2 linked regions of the Homo sapiens genome follow. Changing the gene in region 1 together with any one later gene gives a genetic interaction. Each region holds a gene or a part of one and is shown on either strand. Other genes may lie near its edges. The genes, in order: ATG9A and GBF1.

What was found.
Region 2: changes in ATG9A (region 1) and GBF1 together harm fitness more than expected from each alone (negative genetic interaction), as found in Homo sapiens cells (one study listed by BioGRID).

The regions. Positions count from the first base shown.
Region 1 is NC_000002.12:219,223,131-219,226,940, reverse strand, and holds part of ATG9A (autophagy-related protein 9A), read left to right. Parts: intron 1-7; coding exon 8-72; intron 73-1,368; coding exon 1,369-1,530; intron 1,531-1,728; coding exon 1,729-1,870; intron 1,871-2,086; coding exon 2,087-2,835; intron 2,836-2,918; coding exon 2,919-3,072; intron 3,073-3,176; coding exon 3,177-3,356; intron 3,357-3,810. UniProt on the Homo sapiens protein: Phospholipid scramblase involved in autophagy by mediating autophagosomal membrane expansion. Cycles between the preautophagosomal structure/phagophore assembly site (PAS) and the cytoplasmic vesicle pool and supplies membrane for the growing autophagosome.
Region 2 is NC_000010.11:102,378,032-102,381,841, reverse strand, and holds part of GBF1 (Golgi-specific brefeldin A-resistance guanine nucleotide exchange factor 1), read right to left. Parts: intron 2,559-3,810; coding exon 2,408-2,558; intron 2,322-2,407; coding exon 2,191-2,321; coding exon of another isoform or gene 2,149-2,190; exon of another isoform or gene 2,113-2,148; intron 1,990-2,112; coding exon 1,888-1,989; intron 1,594-1,887; coding exon 1,480-1,593; intron 1,337-1,479; coding exon 1,156-1,336; intron 716-1,155; coding exon 587-715; intron 1-586. UniProt on the Homo sapiens protein: Guanine-nucleotide exchange factor (GEF) for members of the Arf family of small GTPases involved in trafficking in the early secretory pathway; its GEF activity initiates the coating of nascent vesicles via the localized generation of activated ARFs through replacement of GDP with GTP.

The sequences.
Region 1 (3,810 bases):
ATTACACGTTTATAATCTGCACCAGAAGAATGGCTTCACATGTATGCTCATCGGGGAGATCTTTGAGCTCATGTAAGTATAAGAAGGGACAGATGATGTGGTGAAAGAATACATCTTAGTCTTTCCTCTCCTTGCACTCACACTTGGCCCAACCTGCCAGTACAACTCAGTCCTAGGCTAAAACTCCGTAAACCTTTGTAGTTCAGGGACTGGGTGTGGCACCAAAACTTACAGCTTCACCTTTCTTTTTTTTTGAGATGGAGTGAGTCTCACTCTGTCGCCCAGGCAGGAGTGCAGTGGTCTTGGCTCGGTGCAACCTCTGCCTCCCAGGTTCAAGTGATTCTCCTGCCTCAGCCTCCTTAGTAGCTGGGACTACAGGCATGTGCCACCATGCCCGGCTAATTTTTTTTGTATTTTTAGTAGAGATGGGATTTCACCAAGTTGGCCAGGCTGGTCTCGAACTCCTGACCTCGGGTTATCTGCCCGCCTCAACCTCCCGAAGTGCCGGGATTATAGGCATGAGCCACCACGCCCGGCCAAGCTTTCTTACAAGAAAAGCTTTCCAAGCCTTATCTCTTCCATGAAAAGAACCCAAGCCTTGGTTGGGCACGGCAGCTCACACCTGTAATCCCAGCACTTTAGGAGGCTCTAAAAATACAAAAATTAGCTGGGTGTGGTGGCACACGCCTGTAATCCCAGCTACTTGGGAGGCTGAGGCACAAGAATCGCTTCAACCTGGGAGGTGGAGGTTGCAGTGAGCCGAGATTGTGCCGCTGCACTCCAGCCTGGCTGACAGAGTGAGACTCTCTCAAAAAAAAAAAGAATGCAGGCCTTGACCTTGATCATCTCAACGCTCCAATGGAACGTACATTGTTCAGTCAGGAGGTCTCAGAGATGCCAGCCACAGAGAAAAGCCTCTGTTCTGCCTTGCCTGTTCCATGGCCTGCTCCTAGGCAGAGAGCCTCCTGGGAGAGAGAAGCCATATAGCATTGCCGAAGGGGAAGGGGTTAGGAAGCCCTCCCTCAATCAGAAAACTCCCCCAAGGGCTTTTAACTACAACCTCAAAAGGAAATCAGAGACTGGAGATCAGAGACCCACAGGATGAAACCTTCGAGAGTCCAGTAGTGGTGGCTGAGGTTACCATGAGGTGAGGAAAGTAGGCTGCAGCTGTGGCAGCTGAGGCTAAGAGCAAAGAGTGGGCCTGAGACAGTCCTGTGGGGCTGAGGAGCAGAGAGGGCCCACTGGGAGTTCTCCAGGCCCTTCCAGTTCCCAGTCTTGTTCTGCCACCTCCAGACTCTCCTCTTCCCACTGGGTTTCACTGGAGCCTCTCTGGCTCTCAGACTGCACCCCTTCTTCCCAACTCCCCAGGCAGTTCCTCTTTGTGGTTGCCTTCACTACCTTCCTGGTCAGCTGCGTGGACTATGACATCCTATTTGCCAACAAGATGGTGAACCACAGTCTTCACCCTACTGAACCCGTCAAGGTCACTCTGCCAGACGCCTTTTTGCCTGCTCAAGTCTGTAGTGCCAGGTAAGGGCTGCAAGTCAAGAGGACACCATAGCCTTGAGTTCTGCTAGCAGGTGGGTAATAGAGTGGAGTCTGAGGCAGCAACTCATACTCCAGAACTGACTCAGGCTTGGTCTAGCAAAAATACTTCAGGATAGCAGCGTCTCTGCCAAGACTCCTTCCTCGAGGGCCACCTCTCCTCCCCTTCTTTTTCCCCACCAGGATTCAGGAAAATGGCTCCCTTATCACCATCCTGGTCATTGCTGGTGTCTTCTGGATCCACCGGCTTATCAAGTTCATCTATAACATTTGCTGCTACTGGGAGATCCACTCCTTCTACCTGCACGCTCTGCGCATCCCTATGGTAAGACTGGGAAGTTGGGCAGTTAGCCCATAGTCTAAGACGTATTGGGAGGTGTGGGTGTATTCCTGGGCATCAGTTATCCTTATCTGTCATTGACAAATCAGGAACTGTCTCTTAAGCTCACAACCCCTGAATCTCACTTCTAATATAGGGCAAAGGGGTCGAGGCAACAACCCCACCTTCCGTACCTTGTCTCTTCCCCACCCCACCCCGCAGTCTGCCCTTCCGTATTGCACGTGGCAAGAAGTGCAGGCCCGGATCGTGCAGACGCAGAAGGAGCACCAGATCTGCATCCACAAACGTGAGCTGACAGAACTGGACATCTACCACCGCATCCTCCGTTTCCAGAACTACATGGTGGCACTGGTTAACAAATCCCTCCTGCCTCTGCGCTTCCGCCTGCCTGGCCTCGGGGAAGCTGTCTTCTTCACCCGTGGTCTCAAGTACAACTTTGAGCTGATCCTCTTCTGGGGACCTGGCTCTCTGTTTCTCAATGAATGGAGCCTCAAGGCCGAGTACAAACGTGGGGGGCAACGGCTAGAGCTGGCCCAGCGCCTCAGCAACCGCATCCTGTGGATTGGCATCGCTAACTTCCTGCTGTGCCCCCTCATCCTCATATGGCAAATCCTCTATGCCTTCTTCAGCTATGCTGAGGTGCTGAAGCGGGAGCCGGGGGCCCTGGGAGCACGCTGCTGGTCACTCTATGGCCGCTGCTACCTCCGCCACTTCAACGAGCTGGAGCACGAGCTGCAGTCCCGCCTCAACCGTGGCTACAAGCCCGCCTCCAAGTACATGAATTGCTTCTTGTCACCTCTTTTGACACTGCTGGCCAAGAATGGAGCCTTCTTCGCTGGCTCCATCCTGGCTGTGCTTATTGCCCTCACCATTTATGACGAAGATGTGTTGGCTGTGGAACATGTGCTGACCACCGTCACACTCCTGGGGGTCACCGTGACCGTGTGCAGGTGGGCCAGGGCCACAGGCGGGAGCAAGCCGGCTAGCATTCCTGGGAAAGGCATACATCTCACCATGATCCTGATCCCACTAGGTCCTTTATCCCGGACCAGCACATGGTGTTCTGCCCTGAGCAGCTGCTCCGCGTGATCCTCGCTCACATCCACTACATGCCTGACCACTGGCAGGGTAATGCCCACCGCTCGCAGACCCGGGACGAGTTTGCCCAGCTCTTCCAGTACAAGGCAGTGAGTGGAGTTGGAGTTAGGGCCTGCTAGAGACTGGCTGGTAGCTCGGTGGTGAGGGCTGGGCTCCCTCCTGCTCGCTTGTGACCTTGGTCCCGCCCTTTTAGGTGTTCATTTTGGAAGAGTTGCTGAGCCCCATTGTCACACCCCTCATCCTCATCTTCTGCCTGCGCCCACGGGCCCTGGAGATTATAGACTTCTTCCGAAACTTCACCGTGGAGGTCGTTGGTGTGGGAGATACCTGCTCCTTTGCTCAGATGGATGTTCGCCAGCATGGTCATCCCCAGGTACTGGGAGAGGAGGGAGCCAGGTGGCCTGGGATGATGCTGGAACATACAGTGTCTTTGGGAAAACCGCAAAAAGACACCTCTCCTGAGTCACACAAAGGCAGTCCTATACCAGGGGCACACTGCTTGGGAGCCTGGGCTGGATTTCAGCCCTAATTCGCACCCTTGGCCAAGCTCCCTTAAGAAAGGCACAACACGGCCAGGCGCGGTGGCTCACGTCTGTAATCCCAGCACTTTGGGAGGCCAAGGCGGGTGGATCACGAGGTCAGGAGATCGAGACCATCCTGGCTAACACGGTGAAACCCCTTCTCTACTAAAAATACAAAAAAATTAGCCAGGCGTGGTAGCGGGCGCCTGTAGTCCCAGCTACTCGGGAGGCTGAGGCAGGAGAATGGCGTGAACCTGGGAGGCGGAGCTTGCAGTGAGCCGAGATCACGCCACTGCAATCCAGCCT
Region 2 (3,810 bases), on another chromosome or scaffold:
TTTTTTTTTTTTTTTTTTCGCGACAGGGTCTCACTATCACCCAGGTTGGAGTGCAGTGGCATGATCTCAGCTCACTGCAACCTCTGCCTCCCGGGTTCAAGCGATCCTTCCACCTCAGCCTCCCCAGTAGCTGGGATTATAGGTGTGCACTACCACGCCCAGCTAATTTTTATATTTTTTTGGTACAGGCGGGGTTTCACCATGTTGGCCAGGCTGGTTTCAAACTCCTGACCTCAGGTGATCTACCTGCCTCAGCCTCCCAAAGTGCTGGGATTACAGGTATGAGCCACTGCGCCTGGCCGCCAGGTTACTCTCTACTAGAATCCCTGAAAGGAAACCTCTGCAAATTCATTCCAAGTCCCTGACCCAGCCTTCTCTTCCCAAGCCTGAAGACTGCAAGCAGCTAGTTCCTCATAGCTTATGGTCCTGTCATTTCCCATGGGAAGAGCGGCAACAGTTCTCTCTAGTGGCCTTCTTCCCTCGGCTCACAGACCCTGCTCAGCAGCATTCCCACGCCCCCTTGGGCCTCCTCTTAGGCCCCCTGCTTGCTACTCAGTGCCTATCAGGCTAGGCTAGAGAGACTCACCACAGGCCCCCAGCTCAGATGGAATCTCTGGGGGCGGTGGATGGCCAGGTGTCCTAGTGTCGCCAGCAGCGGAAGTCAGGTGGGCTGAGGCGAGAGGCTTTTGGCCTTGAGGCTCCATGGGCATGGGGTCTGGAGACGGTAGAGAATTGAGATGGCACCTCTTAGTGCTTTCTCTCTCCAGCAGAGCCCTAGCTACCCAACAGCCTTTCTACCCACCCAGGGCACAGACAATAAATTCAGCTTTGGGGACTTTTTTTTTTTGAGATGGAATCTCGTTCTGTCACTCAGGCTGTGATCTCGGCTCACTGCAACCTCCACTTCCCGGGTTCAAGTGATTCTCCTGTTTCAGCCTCCTGAGTAGCTGGGACTACAGGCACCCACCGCCACACCTGGCTAATTTTTGTATTTTTCGTAGACATGGGGTTTCACTATGTTGGTCAGGCTGGTCTCAAATTCCTGCCCTCGGGTGATCCACCCACCTCGGCCTCTCAAAGTGCTGGGATTAGAGGTGTGAGCCATTGTGCCCAGGCAGGAGACTCTTTTTGATAAAGCTGGGCTGAGCCCCCTACCCTGGATGACGGTCTGCTTGAAGAGTTCATCTCGTAGGTGAGGGAGAAAACAGTCAATGCGTTCCCAGGTGATCTCCCAGAGGGCCGAGGGGCCGCCTCCCCGTGCATCTGCACTGTGGAAAATCTCCGCTGTGTCCATCACCAGAAGCATGTTCTTCAGAGACTCAGGGATCGCCTCTGACTGCAGGTGGCAGTGGGACCATGAGAATAGGAAAGAGGGCATGGGGGGAGTATGGTAAAGGGAGGTAGCTACCAAGGGGGAAAGGGCAAGTCCTTCCAACAGGTGGGACAGGAGGCAGGCAGCAGAGCTGAGGTAGAACATACCAGTAAGTCGCTGGAGCCTGCGTGCATGTACTTGTCCATGAAGTCCAAGATGGTGAGCCAGAGGGCCGCAAAGGTAGAGAGTGACAGCAGTGGAGACAGGTGCTGCAGGAAGACCTATGGCCCACCAGCCCCCTTCAGCTGAGGGGACTGTAGGAGCCTCTGGACCCCTCTCTGAGGCTGGGTAGCTAAGCCTGTCCTATCTTGCATGAGAATCTTAGATCAGAGATGGAGGAATCTCTGATTTAAGATTCAGAATCCTCTCAGGTCCCTAGGTCCTGCTTAGTGTCCATAGCTGGGGGGTTGTGAGCACCTACAGTGCATCTCTAGGTCCTGCCAGAAGCCCTGGCTTCCCTCCTCGGGAAAAGGCAGGTATGGGAGAGAGGGTGGGTATAGGGTGGTGAGCAGTACCTTAGAGAGCAATGTGGAAGCCCTCATCCGGGTCTCCTCCATCCCACCCACATCTGCAGGGCTGATGTTCTCCAAGAGCTTGGTAAGTAGAGGAAACAGCACCTGGTGGGGGTAAATGTGCAATGTCTCCCTATGAGGTTCAGCTAGGCAGCCTTGCCCCAAGGAAGCCAGGAACTGGATGGGCATAGAGCTGAAGGGAAGGTATGATGCAGGCTGAAGACTCACATTAGGGGCTCTTCAGGCTGCCTGGCTTTCCTTTTCTTAGGATTTGAACTTTATCTTAAGACCAGTAGGAAGTCCCACCTTGTTAAAACAGGACTCCCATTCCAGGGCATCTAGCTTTTGCAGATCATGTACAAGTAGTGCTCGCTGCAGATAGGTCAGTGCCTGCATCCGTACCTGGCGCCGGGCATCGCAGCACAGGCAGGCAATACCTGAGAGCAAGAGCAGGGTCAGGATCCTTCAGGCATCTTGATCCTGATGCTCCCCAAACTCCCTACCTCTGCCCCTCCTGGTTTACCCTGCAGTAAAGGGCACCAGCAGTGGGCCCAGAGGGTGCGAGAATCAGCTTCAATCTTCTGGCCACCTGTCTCCAGGTGGCGTTGCTCCTCCGCCCATGAGCTGTAGATAGAGGCTGCCCGCGTGTGCAGGGTGTGCATCAGGTCTAGCAACTAGGATCACAGGAGGGGGCAGGATGTGAGTGGGGTTAGGTCTCGTGGATCCCTTTCCCCCTCCCCACTCACTGTCCCTAACTAAGTCCTCAAGGTGTCCCTAGCACCAATCATGCCATACCTCACCCCCTCGCTACTCTTTCCCTTGACTTGACTTCCTGGTTGTTCCAGTCCTTGTAAAGGACTCTCCAAGTCAGAGATTACTCATGAGAGAGAGAGCCTTAGGAGGTGTGTGGACTGAGTATTTCACAATCCTTACTCACAGTGAGAAAGATACTTTCTTTTCAATTCTATTTCACACCTGCTGATGACAGAGAAAGCCTCATGTTGTTAATTTAATTTTATTTTTTGAGGCAGGGTCTCACTCTGTCACCCAGGCTGGAGTGCAGTGGCACAATCACGGCTCGCTGCAGCCTCGAACTCCTGGGCTCAGGTGATCCTCCCACCTCAGCCTTATGAGTAGATGGAACTACAGCTGTGCGCTGCCACAGCCAGCTAATTTTTTGTATTTTTGTAGAGATGGGGTTTTGCCATGTTGCCCAGGCTGATCTTGAGCTCCTGGGCCCAAGCAATAGTCCTCCCAAAGTTTTAGGATTACAGGTGTGATTATACCATGCCCGGCCTAATTTTATTTCTTATTTTATTTTTTGAGACAGGGTCTTGCTCTGTGCAAAACTGGAGTGCATGGCACCATCATGGCTCACTGCCTCCTGGATCTCCTAGGCTCAAGAAATCCTCCCACCTACTCAGCTACTCAGCCTCCCCAGTAGCTGGGACTACAATGTGTGCCACCATGCCCAGATAATTTTTGCATTTTTATTTTTGTAGAGGCAGGGTCTCGCTATTTTTCCCAGGCTGGTCTCGAACTCCTGGCCTCAAGTGATCCTCCCGCCTCAGCCTCCCAAAGTGCTGGAATTACAGGTGTGAGCCACTGTACCTGGCTGTTAATCTCATTTTTAAAACAGAAAACCTCAGGCTCAGAGGCTTTGATTGGGCAATAGTGTCTGGCCAGATTTAATACATTTTTACTTTCGTTATTTTTCTTTTCTTTCTTTTTTTTTTTTTTGAGATGGAGTCTTGCTCTGTCGCCCAGGCTGGAGTGCAGTGGCATAATCTCGGCTCACTGCAAGCTCTGCCTCCCGGGTTCACGCCATTCTCCTGTCTCAGCCTCCCGAGTAGCTGGGACTACAGGCGCCTGCCACCATGCACAGCTATTTTTTCTATTTTTAGTAGAGACGGGGTTTCACCGTGT